Regions from separate parts of the Homo sapiens genome. Here region 1 is linked to region 2. Evidence: fine-mapped QTL for protein levels in blood plasma. A gene starts in region 2. The other region holds a variant in brackets. All regions are shown on one strand. Distances are from middle to middle.

Region 1 (5,365 bases), 34 kb before region 2:
GGGAACGTTGACAGAGAACTCTCCTTTCCATGGTGAGGAATTTGAGATGGTCAAGGAGACCCAGGCTTCACTGCCCACAAGAACGCATTTCAGCCCAGGTTCTCATGAACGCAGCCATCATGACGGTTACCCACGGGTTCTTCTTCATGGGCCAAACACGACTGCTGGGTTTCTCTGCGTGATCCAGGAAGAAGAAAGAAGCAACACTTTCATCTTCTAAGAAGTCAAAAACTTGTTTACAGATGCAGCTCATCGTGATCTCAGGGCCACTATAACCTCCTCCCAAATGACATGCGGCTGGTCAATCACCTGGACTTCCACTCTCAGGGAGTCAGGGCAGACCAGGTTTTAGGTGCATCTGGGACGGGGGTGATCCTAACTGCTCCTAGCCGAGGCAGATGTTGCAGGAAATCCAGATTTGCACTTGATCCTTACTCTGCCAGTTATTTTTGTTGTTTTTTGTTTGTTTGAGACAGAGTCTCACTCACTCTGTCACCCAAGCTGGAGTGCAGTGGCTCAATTATGGCTCACTGCAACCTCCAGGTTCAAGCAATTCTCCTGCCTCAGCCTCCCAAGTAGCTGGGACTACAGGTGCACACCACTATGCCTGGCTAATTTTTTGTAGTTTTTGGTAGAGATGGGGTTTCTCCATGTTGGCCAGGCTGGACTCAATCTCTTGACCTTGTGATCAGCCTGCCTCAGCCTCCAAAAGTGCTAGGATTACAGGCACGAGCCACTGTGCCCAGCCTCTGCCAGTTTTTAAAACTGATCACCTCCCCTTTCCCTCACTCAAATATTTAATTAAAACTGCCAACAAAATAGACAAATGTCTAGAATTTAATGTTGCTTCCTTCCCTGACGGCTTTTGGGGTGGCGCTAATGCCAGACACGAGAGTTTGCCACAGTCCACATCCCAGCAGCAGCAAAATGAGCCACGTCAGGGAGAGGAGGGGCCAGCGGCGAGAGCCCTGTGGACCACAGCACAGCCACCCGAGCCTGCTCTTGGCAACCCCAGCAAGGCCCTCTGACAGCCCGAGCTGTGTCATGCTCAGGGCAGGGCGAGTGGGAGTCACTGGCTCGGACCAGAATCCACGCACCGAGGGAGCTGTGCTCACACTCGGAAAGACCAGGGTGAGGGGCCATCACCTTGAAGCCGGGGTCCCCGGATGGAAAAGTTACAGGTATTGGGAAGCCGCTGGGTGCCTGGAAACTGGCTATTCAGATGGATTCTCTTCTGACCGAATTCAGCCTGAAAAAAATAAGTGAAATATTTGGTGACAGCTTCAAAGACACCACCACCAGCAACTGTTTGAAATTTAGACTTTTCCAGAAACACAACTTCAGCAGGTGCATACTTTTCAATCAGCATCTACCCAGAATAGTTACGGGGACGGACTATGGAAAGCAAAGTTAATTAGGAGAAAAACCAAATATTCAGAAACATATGAACCTTCCACATAAACCATGAGGTATACCACCTCTGCATATTTGATCCTGTGTCTCTGAAAAAGATCATGCCCCTGGCCTAGGGTCCTGCTTTCGGGGTTTCAGATCCCAATGTACTTTCTGCCACTGTTCTTTCTTCCCTCACTGCATCCTGCTGAGTTCCAGGCTACGCTGCAATCCCCACAGGTCCTGGGGTCTGGGAGCACCACACCCCTCCTCTCTGGGCACCTGCCCCACGCACCCTCCCCCTCCTGGTGCCCACCCCACGCTGCGCTCACTTCCAGCCTCTCTTCCAGGTAGTCGCGGACGTCCCTCATGTGGGCCTCATAAGCCTCGCAGTTCTGGGTCACCAGCTCCGCGGCCTGGGGGCAGACACACAACAAGTGGATGCACAATTCTTGCAAAATAAAGGAGGGCCAAAAAGCTTTCAACGGTACAGGTGGCATTTCCTGAAACTGCTCATTCTCCTGACAGTCACAGACAGACCATATTTTTTGAGTGCTGCCATTTGGAGGGTGTGGAAGTGCCCCAGAAACTGACTTCACCAGGTACCTCCTGACAGCACCAGGCACTGGAGATGCCTCAGCAAAGCAGCCCTGAAAGGGCTCCCTCGAGGAGCCAGCATCCCAGAGAGGCAGACGGACAAAAGCAGGGGAAGAGGGGAACAGACTCCTACCCACCAGTTGGCGCTGTGAAGGCACCTCGCAGGCCCAAGGTGGGGTGGTGACAGAGATGGCTGTACAAGGGCAGGGAATGGCGTCCCAGCAAGGGCTTTGCAGGGGACAGACAGACATTCTGTCTCTAGAACAGAGGGGCCTGGCGTGGCGGGTGGAGAGTGTGGAGGGGGTGAAGGCGCAGGGACAGATCGACAGGCCCTGCAGGCCCGGCCACGGGGCAGACGCAGTGAGGCTGAGGGAGGGATGCGATGGTCTGACTGGCCTGTCTGTTGGTCATTCTGTGGCCGTGTGGAAAATGGCAGCAGCAGGCCCCCAGGAGGCCATGGCAGGCATCCAGACCCTTGGTCTAGGGTTG[G/A]TGGCCATGAAAATGGACATGAGGCCGGTAGTGGGTGTATTCTGGAATCCAGACAGACAGGAAGGTGCTGCATTGGAGGCAGGGGACGATGACAAGGAGGGACTGAGGGCATCCCCCGGACTTCAGAGGTGAGAACCTGGATAGCAAGAGGTGCCCAGGGTGGGAAGAGGGTTGGAGGAGAGCAGTCGGGACAGGTTTTGAACTCAGAGGAATGGATCTCTCAGGACATGGGCCAGGGCCTAGCTGAGATGTCAAGTTTAAAGGCAGGAGCACAAGCTAGCATCACAGTGACAGGACAGACGGACCCACAAGGGCTCAGGTGCAGGGCTGCCAGCACGCAACCAAGGCAGAAAGGAATGGGTGAGGGAAAGCACGCTGGGGAGGGCGTGTGCAGGATGGAGTCTAGGCTGGGTGGCGGAGGGGGGCTGTCTAGAGCGCTGGTGGCATTGGGGTCTGGGCTGGGCGAAGCTGAAGAACCAGTGGGGGTGTGGTGCTGTGGCTGGGACCCAGCTGTGGCACTTGTGCCATTACAGGTGCAGATGCAGCTGCAGGAGCACGGAGAAGGTCAGGGGCTGGGGGGCTTCCAGCACTGTGAGCTGAAGCTCTACCTAGGAAGCTGTTACCGTGATTCCCATCTGGCAGCCAGGACTCAGGGAGTTCCAGCGACCTGACCCAAGGCACACGGTGAGTGAAGCTTCAAGCCAGGATTTGAACCCTGGGTATTTCAAAGCCTGTGGACGGCACCACTACTTCATCACTCAGGTCAATACGAGCAGGTACCGGACTCCACTTAAAACACACTCTTCCGGCTGGGCGTGGTGGCTCATGCCTGTAATCCCAGCACTTTGGGAGGCCAAGGCGGGTGGATCACCTGAGGTTAGGAGTTCGAGACCAGCTGGACAACATGGTGAAACCCTGTCTCTACTAAAAATACAAAAATTAGCCAGGCATGGTGGCGCATGCCTGTGGTTCCAACTACTTGGAGACTGAAGTGGGAGAATCTCTTGAACCCGGGAGATGGAGGCTGCAGTGAGCCAAGGTCGTGCCACTGCACTCCAGCCTGGGTGACAGAGTGAGACTCCATCTCAAACAAACACACACTCTTCCTTCTAGTAAATGTAGCCACAGTTATCACTGTTAATAATATAATTTTGAATATTCTAAGTAACAGGGAATCCATTCATACTCTTCCCAAGGCCCGGCCTCCTGGGCGCTAAGCCCTTTCTCTGTACTGGGGATACTGAGGCCGACATGGCCAAGCCCCTGCTCTCGGGGAAGCAGAAGGTGGGGCATACATCTGAACACACTACAGAGAAACATCAGATAGGGGAAATAAAGCAGTGTCAGGGATAGAGGGTGACAGCAGGGGACATGGGGGAACCAATGTAGCTGTGGTTCATGGAGGGTTGCTTGAAGGTGGTGGCCTTTGACCAGAGGCCGCACAGTGAGGGAGCAGCCTGCAGACGCCGAGGTGTAACCAGTACCTCTGCCTTCGCACGGCAAAACCTGAGCCTGGTTACTGTCGCAGAAGCAGGACAGGCCCCAGTGGAGGGCTGGTGGCAGGTGCTGGATTGGCCACCCCACAGACCAATCGGGGACAGAACGTCGATGGTGCGGGGGCTGCCGACGCCTTTGGGAATGGTGAACCTGCAGCTTGACACTTCACCTCTGCTGTAACAGTATCACTGTTTCTCATGTCAGAAGAGACACAGACAAGGAGTTTTTCCCTTTTAAATGCTAAACAAGTGCCACTAATCCACAGATCTGAAAAAGTACAGCTCTCCAGGTTGATAAATCAGATTCCAGGCTTTTTCTTGTCAGTCCGCTTATGAGATCACGAATATGATCTCCCTAAAGCCCCAGATTCCTACTAGAGCCGCTGGGGACACTGATGACAAAGCAATCAACTCATCTCCTCAAGCTCACCAGGGCTCACCTTCCCAAGGCCAGCAATCATTGGGGTGTTCTCTGTCCTGTAAGAAACAAGGGATTAAGCAAGAATAAACAAATGTCTCAGGAAGGAATCCTGTCTCCATGAAAGTCATTGTGTTAAAATAAAATCAAACTCACGCTACATCTTTCCTAAGCACGCGCCATGTGGCTATCTCAATGGCAGCTGCAGGCCCCAGAAACCTCCCCTGCCAAGTTTTCACTTGCCCTGGCCCAGTGAAGGTCAACGAGGCCCACTGTGGGTGATGTGTTGGGTGTTCACTGTGACAGTTCTATCTGGACCCTTTTCCTACCCAAAGCAAGCACTCTGCCTCCTGTAGGCCCCAAGGCACAGCTCTCTTTAGTCCTCACTGCCAAATCAGTATAGTATGGAACAGGGGAGAACCCTTTGTTCTCAACATTTCAGGCATCAGCAAACAAGAGGGGTGTGTGTGTGTGTGTATGTGTGCAAGCGCGTGTGGGTGTGCACACACACAGGAGATGGGCAAGAGACCCCTAAAGACAATGGCTTGCATACTCTGACCTAACAAACCGAAAAACAGAACTCATTACCCTATTTTCAGGAAAAAAAAATTAACTTAATAATTAATTTCTTAATTTTTTTTTAGATGGGGTCTCGTTCTGTTGCCCAGGCTGGAGTGCAGTGGATCTCGACTCACTGCATCCTCCACCTGCCGGGTTCAAGTGATTCTCCTGCCTCAGCTTCCTGAGTATCTGGGATTACAGGCATGTGCCGCCATGCCCAGCTAATTTTTGTAAAGACAGGGTTTCACCATGTTGGTCAGGCTGGTCTCGAACTCCTGACCTCGTGATCCAGCCACCTCGGCCTCCCAAAGTGCTGGGATCACAGGTGTAAGCCACTGCGCCCGGCCCATTAATTTCTTAAGTTTGCCTGAACAAAGTTTTCTTAAACCTCTGGACTCGGCTATTGCTTGTT
Region 2 (5,301 bases):
TTCTTCCCGGGCTCAGGGGCTCTGCCGGTTCACCTCCGGCAAGTCCCCTGCCCTTCGCATCTGCTGTGCCCTCTTCCTGGCAGGCTCTGCTTCCCCAGAACCTGCAAACCTCACCCCTGGAAGTCACTCGGGTTTCGGCCCCAAAGTCACCTCTCCGTGGGCCCTTGCGGGGCCACAGCTCGCACCCGCTCCTCCTTGAAGCTCGCATCCCTGACTTAGGCCGACCTCGCGGACATCCCCGCGCGGGACGCCCCACGCGAGAGCGGCCACAGGCCGGGAGCCCCCTTCGTCCTCCCGCGCGGGACAATCGGCGACAGGCGCCGGCCGCTCCCCAGCCCTGCCCTAAAGGCGCGCACCTCTCCGGCGAGTTGTGTTTCCCGCAGCCGCTGGGCTGACTCGCCGCGGGTGCCGGCGCATCCCTCCCCGGCGCCACGGCCGCCTCCATCCCCGCCCCACTGCTGCCGGGCATCCAGCCTCCTTCCCGCGGAGCGCTACGGGCCCAGAGCGCCGGGGAGGAGGCGGGGCCGCGACGCCCGGGCGCGTCCGGATTGGCTGAGCGAAGCACCCCAGCCAATCCACCCGCTTCAGAGGGCCGCCGAGCCCCCAGCGGGGAGGCGAGGCTGCGCTGGGTCAGGTGACGGGTGGGGGCGGGGCTTAGCGCGTCACAGAGCTTCCCGGGAACCGGGCGCTAGAAGCCGCGTCTCCTGGGCCGGCGGATCCCCGCACTTTCACTTCCGGGGGAGCCCCGTGACCTTTGCTGTCTGCGGCAGGGCCGCCATCGGGCCGCGGCCGGTTAGTCGGCGTAAGAGCAGGCGGGGCCCGAGCTGGACCTGAGGAGCAGAGGCGGCTGGGCAGTCCTGCGGGTGCCTCCCTCTAGCCGCATGAGCGCGGGACCGTGCACTCCGGGAGAGCCGGGGCCGCGCGGCCTTGTTCCCCGCGAACCCTCGAGGGGAAGTGCCGGGGCCGCGGCAGCAGGGCCAGGGCCCCGGGGGTCTCCCGCAGGCCACCCTGGACAGTGATGAGCAGGTCCGCTGGACCTGCGCGTCCGTTAGTCGGAGCGGCTCCATAGGGGACCTGGATGGCGTGAAGTTAAGAGTCACGCATCGAGGATGGACTTGAGGGGATCTGGAGTAGAGGATGGGAGGGCATTGAGAAAATAGGGCCAGAGATGAGGGACTCTAAGTGGGCGTGGAAACGCAGGAAAGATTAATTCAAGATCTGTTTAGGCCGTTAAATAGGAATTGGGGCATGAGGGACAGGAAGGAAGCAAGGATTAGACAAGTGACTGGGAAGATGTTAGTGCCTTTATCTGGGTAAGAGGGAAGACGGGAGGGGGAAAGATGATGGGTTTAGCTTTGGACATGTTGAGTTGTCTGTGAGACAGTCACAAGTGTAAACATCCACCAATGGTTGGTGTCCCGCCAACCATTAAGAAAAGTCAGTTGAGAAAGTGGTAGAAATGAGCAAAAATCCTCACGAAGCCATCCTACCGTCACTTTTTTTGTTGTTTTTTGTTTTTTTGGCATAATAGTGTCTACCTTTAATTGAGCCTTGAACTATGCCAGGCAGTGTTCTAGGTATTTTTCGTGTGTTCACTAATTTAATCTTGATGATTAACCCAGTCTGGTAGGTATTTATGTATGAGGAATCCAAGATACAGAAAGGCATCTTGCCCAAGTTCACACGAGTAGTGGCTGGAGCCAAAATTCGGTTTCAAGCATGCTTTGCCAAGAGGTTGAATTTTAATTGGCTTTTCATGGGCTTTCTCTATTTTGTGTCCTGTTGGGGTCCAGAATAACTTGGCTTTTCCAGCACAGCAAATCTGCAAATTTCTGGACTCATTCTCTCTCATTCTTCCCTATAAACGCAGCTCATTTCTTGCCAAATGCAGCCAATAGCAAAGGGCCCACCAACATTTAAGAAGCAAATGGATGCACAGGAGCATGAGAACAGTCAAAAGAGGAGGAAAGGAAAGGGAATTGAGAAGGAATGTCAAAAAAGTCAAGAAGACACATAATAGTGTAAAGTGTGGCTGAGAGGCAATCCGAAGTCTACTGTGCGTAACAATTAGGAGGCACTGATAAACTAGCGAGAGAAGTCTCAGTGATGGGAGAGGCATGGAAGTTAGAATGCAAAGATGGGATATGAAAAAATGAAGAATGCAGTCAACTCTTAAAACGGTTGAGAAAGGAGGAATTAAAAAGGCGTATAAGATTACAGGCAAGCTGGGCGCGGTGCTTCACCCCTGTAATCCTAGCACTTTGAAAGGCTGAGGTGGGTGGATCACCTAAGGTCAAGGGTTCGAGACCAGCCTGGCCAACATGGCAAAACTCCGTCTCTACTAAAAATACAAAAAGTAGCCGACTGTGGTGGTGCATGCTTGTAATCCCAGCTACTGGGGAGGCTGAGGCAAGAGAATCACTTGAACCTGGGAGGTGGAGGTTACACAGTGAAGCTGAAACCATGCCACTGCACTCCAGCCTGGGAGTCAGAGTGAGACTCCGTCTCAAAAAAAAAAAAAAAAAAAAAGATTAAGAGCAAATAGAGACTGAACATGTTCATAGGCTAAAGGGAGTTAGCCAACAGGACGTGCAAGGAAGAGGAGCCAAAGTCCTGGAGGAGACGATAGGGGATGAAGTTAAGAGTAAAGGTGGCTAGGGAAGTTGATAGGCATGGGGAGAATTCATTCTCTAAATCTGTTTGGAAGGCTGTAAGGATAGGAGCCCAAGGACAATGGACAAAGTGACGATTCATCCCAAGCACTCCTTGGGCCAGTTAGGCAGCAATAAGGTTTGTGTTTCCAGGTGAACATAGTGAGTGTAGTGGTGGAGTCAGACAAGATAGTGTCCAACATGGCTGGTGATACCCCGAAAGAATTGAGTACAAACATACAGAAGCCCAGGTGCTGAGGTAGCCCAGCTGAAAACAGTTTAGGGTACAACACGCAGCAGCAGCTACCACCATTCCAAGTATACTGGTCACACATGCAACAGATGACCTACCAAGATGTCTCTAATACAAACACAAGTGCCCCATAGTGGCCAGACATTTGAGGAATGGCATCTCCATGAAGATAGTGAGAGGTGACAGCGTGCTGGCAGCCCTGGCAGCCCTCGCTCGCTCTCGGCGCCTCCTCTGCCTGGGCTCCCACTTTGGTGGCACTTGAGGAGCCCTTCAGCCCACCGCTGCACTGTGGGAGCCCCTTTCTGGGCTGGCCAAGGCTGGAGCCGGCTCCCTCAGCTTGCAGCGAGGTGTGGAGGGAGAGGCGCGAGCGGGAACCAGGGCTGCGCGGGGCGCTTCTGGGCCAGCTGGAGTTCCGGGTGGGCGTGGGCTTGGCGGGCCCCGCACTCGGAGCGGCCTGCCAGCCGGCCCCGCCGGCCCCGGGCAATGAGGGGCTTAGCACCCGGGCCAGCGGCTGCGGAGGGTGTACTGGGTCCCCCAGCAGTGCCAGCCCACCTGCGCTGCGCTGGATTTCTCGCCGGGCCTTAGCTGCCTCCCCGTGGGGCAGGGCTCGGGACCTGCAGCCTGCCATGCCTGAACCTCCTCACTTCCATGGGCTCCTGCGCAGCCTGAGCCTCCCAGACGAGCGCTGCTCCCTACTCCAGGGCACCCAGTACCATCCACCGCCCAAGGGCTGCGGAGTGCAGGCGCAGGGCAAGCGGGACTGGCAGGCAGCTCCACCTGCAGCCGCAGTGGGGGATCCACTGGGTGAAGCCAGCTGGACTCCTGAGTCTGGTGGGGACTTGGAGAACCTTTGTGTCTAGCTCAGGGATTGTAAACGCACCAATCAGCGCCCTGTCAAAACAGACCACTCGGCTCTCTGTAAAAAGGACCAATCAGCAGGATGTGGGTAGGGCCAGATAAGAGAATAAAAGCAGGCTGCCCGAGCCAGCAGTGGCAACCCGCTCGGGTCCCTTCCACGCTGTCAAAGCTTTGTTCTTTCACTCTTTGCAATAAATCTTGCTGCTGCTCGCTCTTTGGGTCCACACTGCCTTTATGAGCTGTAACACTCACCACGAAGGTCTGCAGCTTCACTCCTGAAGCCAGCGAGACCACGAACCCACCGGGAGGAACGAACAACTCCAGACGCACCGCCTTAAGAGCTGTAGCACTCACCGCGAAGGTCCGCAGCTTCACTCCTGAGCCAGCCAGACCACAAACCCCACCAGAAGGAAGAAACTCCAAACACATCCATACATCAGAAGGAACAAACTCTGGACACGCCGCCTTTAAGAACTGTAACACTCACCGCGAGGGTCCGCGGCTTCATTCTTGAAGTCAGTGAGACCAAGAACCCACCAATTCCGGACACAATAGCACGTGCACCAAATAGAATTCTCACCTAAGGGAAAAAGTTTATAGAGCTATCAGAGTAGGTCTCCAATAGAGCAAGGTCTTGAGACAAATGGGTATTTTATTTAAAAAAAAAAATAGGCTGTCATGAAACAAGAACAAACAGTGAAAAGAGATACTAGACATTAATAATTGAAGTTTAAAAACTCAACATGAGTTGTCAGGTGTTGGGGAAGGAAAAGATGCATAGGCAGAGAACAGAATTTTTAGGGCAATGAACTATTTTGTATACTATAATGGTGGATACATGTAATATATTTGTCAAAATTCACAGAAGATACAACACCAAGAATGAATCCTAATGTAAACTATGGACTATGGGTGATGATGTGTCAATGAAGTTTAATCAGTTGTTAACAAAAGTACCACAGTGGATGTTGATAGTGGAGGAGGTTGCGTACATGTGCACAGGCAGGGGATATATGGTAACTGCTCAATTTTCAAGTGAACCTAAAACTCCTCTAATAAATAAGGTTTATTGTTTTTTTTAGAACCCCCCAATAGATGGGTTGAAGAGCAGAATAGGCATAGCTGAGGAGTGAATTCGTGAACTGGCCCTAGGAATTCTCTGATTATTGCTCAAAAGGATAGAGATGGAAAATATGAAATAAAATTGTCCATTGAATATGGTGATTCTCAAGCAGAGGTGATTTTTCCTTCCAGGGGTCCTTTGGTCATATCTGGAGACAATTTTGGTTACCATAACAGGAGCTGTGGTGCTTCTGGGCTGTAGTGAGTGAGGCTATTTATACTACTGAGCATCCCCCACAATAAATTATTAGCCCCAAGTGTCGCCAGTGCCAAAGGGGAGAAACCCTGATGTGGTTCCACGTTTCCATTTGGTATCATTTCTTCTGCCAAAGGACTTTGTAGTGCTAGTCTGCTGGTATGCTTCCTTCAGCTTTTGTACACATGAAAACTTGTTATTTTGCCTTCATATTTGATATG

Direction of the effects. Positions count from the first base shown, and alleles are read on the strand shown. Strength reflects both the effect of a copy and how common the allele is.
With allele A in place of G in region 1, the plasma level of the protein whose gene starts at base 499 in region 2 is higher (moderate association).

Evidence for each region. PIP is the posterior inclusion probability: the model's chance that the variant is causal. The UK Biobank Pharma Proteomics Project read protein levels with antibody pairs (Olink). The fine-mapping took linkage between variants from a reference panel, not from the people measured, so its PIPs are less certain.
Region 1: its variant is fine-mapped to the plasma level of the SCLY protein (UK Biobank, PIP 0.98).

The regions. Positions count from the first base shown.
Region 1 is chr2:238,090,304-238,095,668 of GRCh38, reverse strand. It overlaps SCLY (selenocysteine lyase), which reads right to left. Exons shown (of 12, transcript NM_016510.7): 8 at 4,415-4,451; 9 at 1,725-1,808; 10 at 1,147-1,249. It overlaps UBE2F-SCLY (UBE2F-SCLY readthrough (NMD candidate)), which reads right to left. Exons shown (of 19, transcript NR_037904.1): 15 at 4,415-4,451; 16 at 1,725-1,808; 17 at 1,147-1,249. Among named protein-coding and RNA genes, the nearest start is that of ESPNL, 7.4 kb to the left of the region's middle. RefSeq lists enhancers at 158-825, 826-1,495, 3,181-3,350. The variant G/A (reference allele first, on the strand shown) is at 2,479.
Region 2 is chr2:238,056,199-238,061,499 of GRCh38, reverse strand. It overlaps SCLY (selenocysteine lyase), which reads right to left and starts at 499. Exons shown (of 12, transcript NM_016510.7): 1 at 357-499. The coding sequence starts at 445. It overlaps UBE2F-SCLY (UBE2F-SCLY readthrough (NMD candidate)), which reads right to left. Exons shown (of 19, transcript NR_037904.1): 8 at 4,250-4,342. RefSeq lists silencers at 290-739, 880-1,089, a cis regulatory region at 4,133 and an enhancer at 4,049-4,218.